Homo sapiens: one gene and its partner. The protein of the gene in region 1 interacts with the protein of each later gene in a pairwise test. Each region holds a gene or a part of one and is shown in the gene's direction. Other genes may lie near its edges.

Evidence for each region.
Region 2: the proteins of SELE (region 1) and ATXN3 interact in binary tests that used the Homo sapiens proteins (3 or more experiments, as listed by UniProt).

Annotation. Positions count from the first base shown.
Region 1 is NC_000001.11:169,731,280-169,735,231, reverse strand, and holds the start of SELE (E-selectin precursor), read left to right. Parts: upstream 1-1,152; 5' UTR 1,153-1,261; intron 1,262-1,571; 5' UTR 1,572-1,619; coding exon 1,620-1,656; intron 1,657-2,233; coding exon 2,234-2,617; intron 2,618-3,289; coding exon 3,290-3,397; intron 3,398-3,952. UniProt on the Homo sapiens protein: Cell-surface glycoprotein having a role in immunoadhesion. Mediates in the adhesion of blood neutrophils in cytokine-activated endothelium through interaction with SELPLG/PSGL1. May have a role in capillary morphogenesis.
Region 2 is NC_000014.9:92,086,083-92,089,582, reverse strand, and holds part of ATXN3 (ataxin-3 reference isoform), read left to right. Parts: intron 1-765; coding exon 766-853; intron 854-3,500. UniProt on the Homo sapiens protein: Deubiquitinating enzyme involved in protein homeostasis maintenance, transcription, cytoskeleton regulation, myogenesis and degradation of misfolded chaperone substrates.

The DNA of each region.
Region 1 (3,952 bases):
GAAGGATATAAAAATTATCCCAAATCCTGCCATCCAGAGTTAGTCACTGTTAACATTGTGGAAGAATTTTTATTCTTTGCACATTAACATTTCAAAAATTTTAAACAAAATTTTGACCAATTAAATATATATATATAGTTTTCCGTTTTATTTTTTTTCTTTTCTTTTCTTTTTTTTTTTTTTTTTTTAAGACAGAGTTTCACTCGTTTCCCAGGCTGGAGTGCACTGGCGTGATCTTGGCTCACTGCAACCTCCACTTCCCGGGTTCAAGCGATTCTCCTGCCTCAGCCTCCCGAGTAGCTGGGATTACAGGCATGCGCCACCATGCCCAGCTAATTTTGTATTTTTAGTAGAGATGGCGTTTCTCCATGTTGGTCAGGCTGGTCTTGAACTCCCGGCCTCAGGTGATCCGCCTGCCTCGGCCTCCCAAAGTGGTGGGATTACAGGCGTGAGCCACTGTGCCTGGCCTCCTTTTTATTTTTTTCACTGAACAAACCATGAAACTTTCCCAGATGTAAATATCTATTTCCCATTTTTCTTTTTTTAAAATAAGGCATTATTTTAACCATTTGAGTGTTAGATATTATTTTTAGATAATATTTTAATTTAGGCATAACTGCCGTGCAAAATCTGAAGATTAATATCTACCTTGTGAGTCATTCCTCTGTGAGACAGTGCATGTTAAATATGTTGAATTGGCAGGTGAAAAAGGAAGAAAAAATGAGTAGTGATTGGTTATCCACAGCTATGAATGAGAAATTGAAGGTAGTAGACTATGGATGACAAACCTATTCTTGGTTTCCTTCTGTTTCTGAAATTCTAATTACTACCACAACTACATGAGAGACACTACTAACAAGCAAAGTTTTACAACTTTTTAAAGACATAGACTTTATGTTATTATAATTAAAAATCATGCATTTTTGTCATATTAATAAAATTGCATATACGATATAAAGGCATGGACAAAGGTGAAGTAGCTTCAAGAGACAGAGTTTCTGACATCATTGTAATTTTAAGCATCGTGGATATTCCCGGGAAAGTTTTTGGATGCCATTGGGGATTTCCTCTTTACTGGATGTGGACAATATCCTCCTATTATTCACAGGAAGCAATCCCTCCTATAAAAGGGCCTCAGCCGAAGTAGTGTTCAGCTGTTCTTGGCTGACTTCACATCAAAACTCCTATACTGACCTGAGACAGAGGCAGCAGTGATACCCACCTGAGAGATCCTGTGTTTGAACAACTGCTTCCCAAAACGGTAAGTGCAGAACGCTTTATAAGGGCAGCCTCGGGCCATGAAACACAGATATGCAAAAGGCCTTCTAATAAAAACCACATCTGTACAAGCTCTTATTGTATTGTAGCTAAAACCTGTCTTTTCTCTTTGACCTAAATAATGAAAGTCTTAAAATTTGTTTATTTATTTGATTAAACTCTGAAATAAAGATTATTGCACTAGTGTCCTTTGCCCAAAATCTTAGGATGCTGCCTTAAACATCATGGTAGAATAATGTAACTAGCTACCCACGATTTCCTTCTTTAATTCATTTTGTGTTTTATCTCCCCAGGAAAGTATTTCAAGCCTAAACCTTTGGGTGAAAAGAACTCTTGAAGTCATGATTGCTTCACAGTTTCTCTCAGCTCTCACTTTGGGTAAGTCAGTGCCATTAGACCAAGATTTCTCATTCTCGCACTATAGATATTTCAGACTGAAATATCCTTGCTTGTCTGGGGCTGTCCTGCACAGGATATCTGGCAGCATCCTTGACCTCTACCTGCAATGTGTTCTTCCCTGGGCTTGGGGTCATTTACTTTACCTCTTGGTGTCTCCCTTTCCTTAAGTGTAAAGTGTGGATCATAATGACCTATTTCCCAGATGCATTGTGAGGATTCAATAGCATGGTTCATGGAAAGTACCTCATACAGTGCTTCTTGGTGCATACTAAGTGCTCAATAAAGCTTAGTTATTCTGATTATTATTCTACTACAAAATGGGTATACTATAATGTTGTGAGTGAGTGTGGATAAGGTACCTAGTGGGTGGCAGTCACAAAAGAGATAAACAATAAGTCGCTGTTTCTTCATACGTACTTCTTACTTTTGAAAAGATGAGAAAAGTCTGGGCCATGTCACAAACATTGCCAAAAATAAGACAATAAAAAGCACAGTTGTCAGAGTTAAACCACAACAGTACCAAACTCTACCATTTCTTTTCTTTTTCTCCCACTAGTGCTTCTCATTAAAGAGAGTGGAGCCTGGTCTTACAACACCTCCACGGAAGCTATGACTTATGATGAGGCCAGTGCTTATTGTCAGCAAAGGTACACACACCTGGTTGCAATTCAAAACAAAGAAGAGATTGAGTACCTAAACTCCATATTGAGCTATTCACCAAGTTATTACTGGATTGGAATCAGAAAAGTCAACAATGTGTGGGTCTGGGTAGGAACCCAGAAACCTCTGACAGAAGAAGCCAAGAACTGGGCTCCAGGTGAACCCAACAATAGGCAAAAAGATGAGGACTGCGTGGAGATCTACATCAAGAGAGAAAAAGATGTGGGCATGTGGAATGATGAGAGGTGCAGCAAGAAGAAGCTTGCCCTATGCTACACAGGTAGGGAGTTTGCGGCAGCAGTGGGAGGTAGTTTCAGTGTGTGGGCATCTTGGCAAATTTACAGCATGCAAAAACTGCTCTCTATTGTGGTCATTTTATGTTCCAAAAGATTCTGTTTAACTGCTAAAGTTTCTCTCTTTTGCTGTTTTGTGTGAATGTGGGCAAGAATATGTGGATATGTATATATATACACACACACACATATATACACACACACATATATGTGTGTGTGTATATATATATAGCCTACAGCATTTATATACATTTTATATATATACATACACACATATACACACATATATGTGTGTATGTATATATATAAAATATATATAAATACTGTAGGCAAATATGTAGTTCTTTACATATAAAAATGCACACACACAATACATATTTTAATTACTTGTTTATTTGTGGTAGGGGAACTGTCTTCAGAGTTTGTGAAGAAGTAAATTTTCTACGGTAGGTGCCAGCCACAGCTATACATTAGCATCAAGGTTTAGGATAGGTGGGCCTGAAACTCAGATTTGGAACTTTGTAAAACACTTCAGTTAAAGTCTATGGCACTCTGTAGGACTGCTGATGTCTCTGTTGCACACTGTTGATTCTAAAATCAAAGGCACTCAGTATAAGCACAGTAATAGTCCTCCTCATCATGCTTTGTATTTTCCGTAGCTGCCTGTACCAATACATCCTGCAGTGGCCACGGTGAATGTGTAGAGACCATCAATAATTACACTTGCAAGTGTGACCCTGGCTTCAGTGGACTCAAGTGTGAGCAAAGTAAGTCTGGTTCTTGCCTCTTTCTTCACTTGAGATGGTAGCACCATCTCACGTCCTAGCTGGCATTAGAGTCAGGTCTGCATGCCTTCCCTTCCCTGGTGCAGATGGTGTCATATGGTGATCGTGAGCTGAGACTATGAAGTCAGACCCTGCTGGGTTTGAGTCCTAGATTCACCAGTTATTTATTTTGGCACCTTGACAAGATAGTTTAACTCTCTATGTCAGTTTTCTCATTGTAAAATGAGGATAATAATAGTGTGAACTTCATAGGCTCATGGTTACATGGTGCCTGGCACACAGGACACATTCAATAAACTGTAATTCTGTGTCCCTGCGAGGAACATGTACTCACCTCATCTAGGTGGTAACAAGACGTTGCAGTAGAAATGAGTGAGTTACAGAGTCCAGGGTATCTTGGTTCATGCTCTGGCCTCTGGCTCTGTAATGACTAGCCGTGTAGCATGGAGCAAGTCACTTGAATGAAATGAGGTCTCAGTTCCTAAATTTGTACATTAAGAGAGTTAGATGAGCTTCTCTCCAAGATTCCTTAGCACA
Region 2 (3,500 bases), on another chromosome or scaffold:
GCGGATCACAAGGTCAAGAGATCAAGACCATCCTGGCTAACATGGTGAAACCCTGTCTCTACTAAAAATACAAAAAAATAGCTGGGTGTGGCGGCGTGCGCCTGTAGTCCCAGCTACTCGGGAGGCTGAGGCAGGAGGATGGCATGAACCCGGGAGGCGGAGCTTGCAGTGAGCCGAGATCGCGCCACTGCACTCCAGCCTGGGCGACAGAGCAATACTCTGTCTAAAAAAAAAAAAAAAAAAAAAAAAAGAGTATTTAGCAGAGGCCAGGTGCAGTGGCTCATGTTTGTAATCCCAGAACTTTGGGAGGCTGAGGCGGGCGGATCATTTGAGGTCAGGAGTTTGAGACCAGCCTGGCCAATGTGGCAAATGTGCTGTCTCTAACTAAAAATACAAAAATTAGCTGGGTGTGGTGGTGCAGACCTGTAGTCCCAGCTACTTGGGAGGCTGAGGCAGGAGAATCACTTGAACCTGGGAGGCAGAGGTTGCAGTGATCCGAGATCATGCCACTGCACTCCAGCCTGGGTTACAGAGTGAGACTCTTCTCAAAAAAAAAAAAAAGTATTTAATAGTGATAAATCTGCAGTATTCTCTTGTAGTTTTTAAGATCATATTATTCAGTCAAAGAAAAGAGCTCAACTTGAAATATTTCCAGAGTTTAAACAATCTTACTAAGCTTTGATGGGTTGTATCTATTCTTAACATGTGAAACTTCCTTATTACCTATAATATACACTAACTTAAATATTGACAATTTTTTTCCAGTGGTTTAACTTGAATTCTCTCTTGACGGGTCCAGAATTAATATCAGATACATATCTTGCACTTTTCTTGGCTCAATTACAACAGGAAGGTAAGTAACGGCTGAACATTTTGTAATGTTACCTTTCGAAGTAGTTAAATAACCAGGCACATTAGATGACAGTGTGATAAAACTGTTTTTCTGGCAGTGGCAGTGAAACAATCTTTAGTTTTGACGTGGTGATAGGCTGTGATTTGGGTGACGCTGTTCAGTTAGAGTTCTCACTGACACCTGGCCCTTCCTCTTCTGAGGATGCTGCTTTCTTTGCAGCCCTTCTAAGTAATGGCTTTTTCTTTTATACATCACATATCACACGGCTGAGAGGAGGGATAGATGTTTTTCTTCTTTGCCTCTTCTAGGCCACTGTTCTTCCTTATAAACTCCAGTTTCTTTGAAATACATGCCCCTAACGGCTGGGCACGGTGGCTCACGCCTGTAATCCCAGCACTTTGGGAGGCTGAGGCAGGCGGATCACGATGTCAGGAGATCGAGACCATCCTGGCTAACACGGTGAAATCCTGTCTCTACTAAAAATAACAAAAAATTAGCCGGGGTGTGGTGGCGGACGCCTGTAGTCCGAGCTACTCGGGAGGCTGAGGCAGGAGAATGGCGTGAACCCAGGAGGCGGAGCTTGCAGTGAGCTGAGATCGCGCCACTGCCCTCCAGCCTGGGCGACAGAGCGAGACTCCGTCTCAAAAAAAAAAAGAAAAGAAAAAAAAAAGAAATACATGCCCCTAGATTAAACTATCCCTTGTCCTTTTGCACTCATCCACAAGTCTCTTTTCATCAGTGATTTTAGGATCTGACTCGTTGTCTTTTTCTCTACTTCAACTACTTTTATCATTCTTAATTATTTCTGTATCGTCAATCAATCCAGTACCTGCCTCTTAGTTTCAAAATCACTTACTCTTGCTTAGCTATTACCAGTAATCATAACCACTGTCAAATCTCAATTGCAAGCATATTACTCTTTAACTACCACCTCCTATCTTTAAACCATGTTTTGTCTGTTTTTTTATTCCAGCCATTCTTTAAACCCTACTGTGGGGCCCAAGCATTTCCTTTATACGCATTCTTCCTTTCTTCTACTGCTTATTTTCTGTAATCCGTCATCATAATCACTCCATTGCATTCTTCAACGTGTTTCCCCTCTCTCCCTCCATCATACTTGAATGACAAAAATCTCAACCCTGGTTAAACCACATCTTGGCCTTGTCCATTCCTGTACCAGAGTAGCTGGACGTGGCTAAAAAATAACATAAAACATGATGATTGGTTTTACTTTTTTCTTAAATGATCTATCCATCCATTCACCCATCCATCTATCAAAGTGACTAGGCCTATTTCTGAAGCCCAGGCTGGAGTGCAGCAGCATAATCACAGCTCATTGCAGCTCCAAACTCCTGGGCTCAAGTGATTCTCTTGCCTTAGCCTGTTGAGTAGCTGGGACTACAGGCTTGTGCTACCACACCTAGCTAAGGTTTTACTTTAAATTTATTATAATCACAAAATTCAGATGAGCCTTTAGTGCTGTCTGATATTTCTACTATGTTTTCTTAGTGATGTACCACCCTCCAAGGTGTTTATAAAAAATTATGTACCACTCTCCAAGAAGTTTATAAAAAATAATGTGCCACCCTCCAAGGTGACTAATTTCACAGCTTATGTCTTTAAACCTTTAAGCACTTTCCTCTCCCTTACACACCTTCCTTGTGGCTTTCCGTTACATTCTGCTGAGAACATAGAAGCAATTAAAATTATGTTCTTTCTACCAGCAAATTTATCAATTTGCTTATATCTTCACCTGTGCTTTGAGCCTATTTAAATAGATGAATGGTCCCCTACCTCTAACCAAAACCAGTCCCTCACTTGTGGGCTGGATCCCAGCTCTTCTCACCTACTCAAGATGTTCCTGCTTTCATCTCTCCACTCTCTTATATAATCAGTTCCCCCCCCCTTTTTTTGTAATATTCCTATAAGCAGTAAAATAAGCTTTTTATTTCCATTGATTAAAAATAAAAATCCTCTCTTAATTCCATGAAACTCCAGCTGCCTCCCCATTTTTATTTTTTCCTTAGGATTGTCTCTAGTGTGCCTTCTCCTTTTCTTGAACTCTGCCTCCTGGGTTCAAGCGATTCTCCTGCCTCAACCTCCCGAGTAGCTGGGATTACAGGCGTGCACCACCATGACCGGCTAATTTTTTTTTTTTTTTTTTGAGATGGAGTTTCCCTCTTGTTGCTCCGGCTGGAGTGCAATGGCGTGATCTCGGCTCACCGTAACTTCTGCCTCCTGGGTTCAAGCGATTTTCTTGCCTCAGCCTCCCGAGTAGCTGGATTTACAGGCATGTGCCACCATGCCTGGCTAATTTTGTATTTTAGTAGAGATGGAAGGGGTTTCTCCATGTTTGTTAGGCTGGTCTCCAACTCCTGACCTCAGGTGAGCCGCCCACCTCGGCCCCCTAAAGTGCTGGGATTACAGGCATGAGCCACTGCGCCTGGCCCCGGCTAAATTTTTTTTTTTTTTTTTTGTATTTTTAGTAGAGACAGGGTTTCACCATATTGGCCAGGTTGGTCTCGAATTCCTGGCCTCGAGTGATCCACCTGCCTCAGCCTCCCAAAGTGCTGGGATTACAGGCGTGAGTCACCTTGCCTAGCCATCTTTTAGTAATGGTATTTGGAGATCACAATTTGAGTGCTGG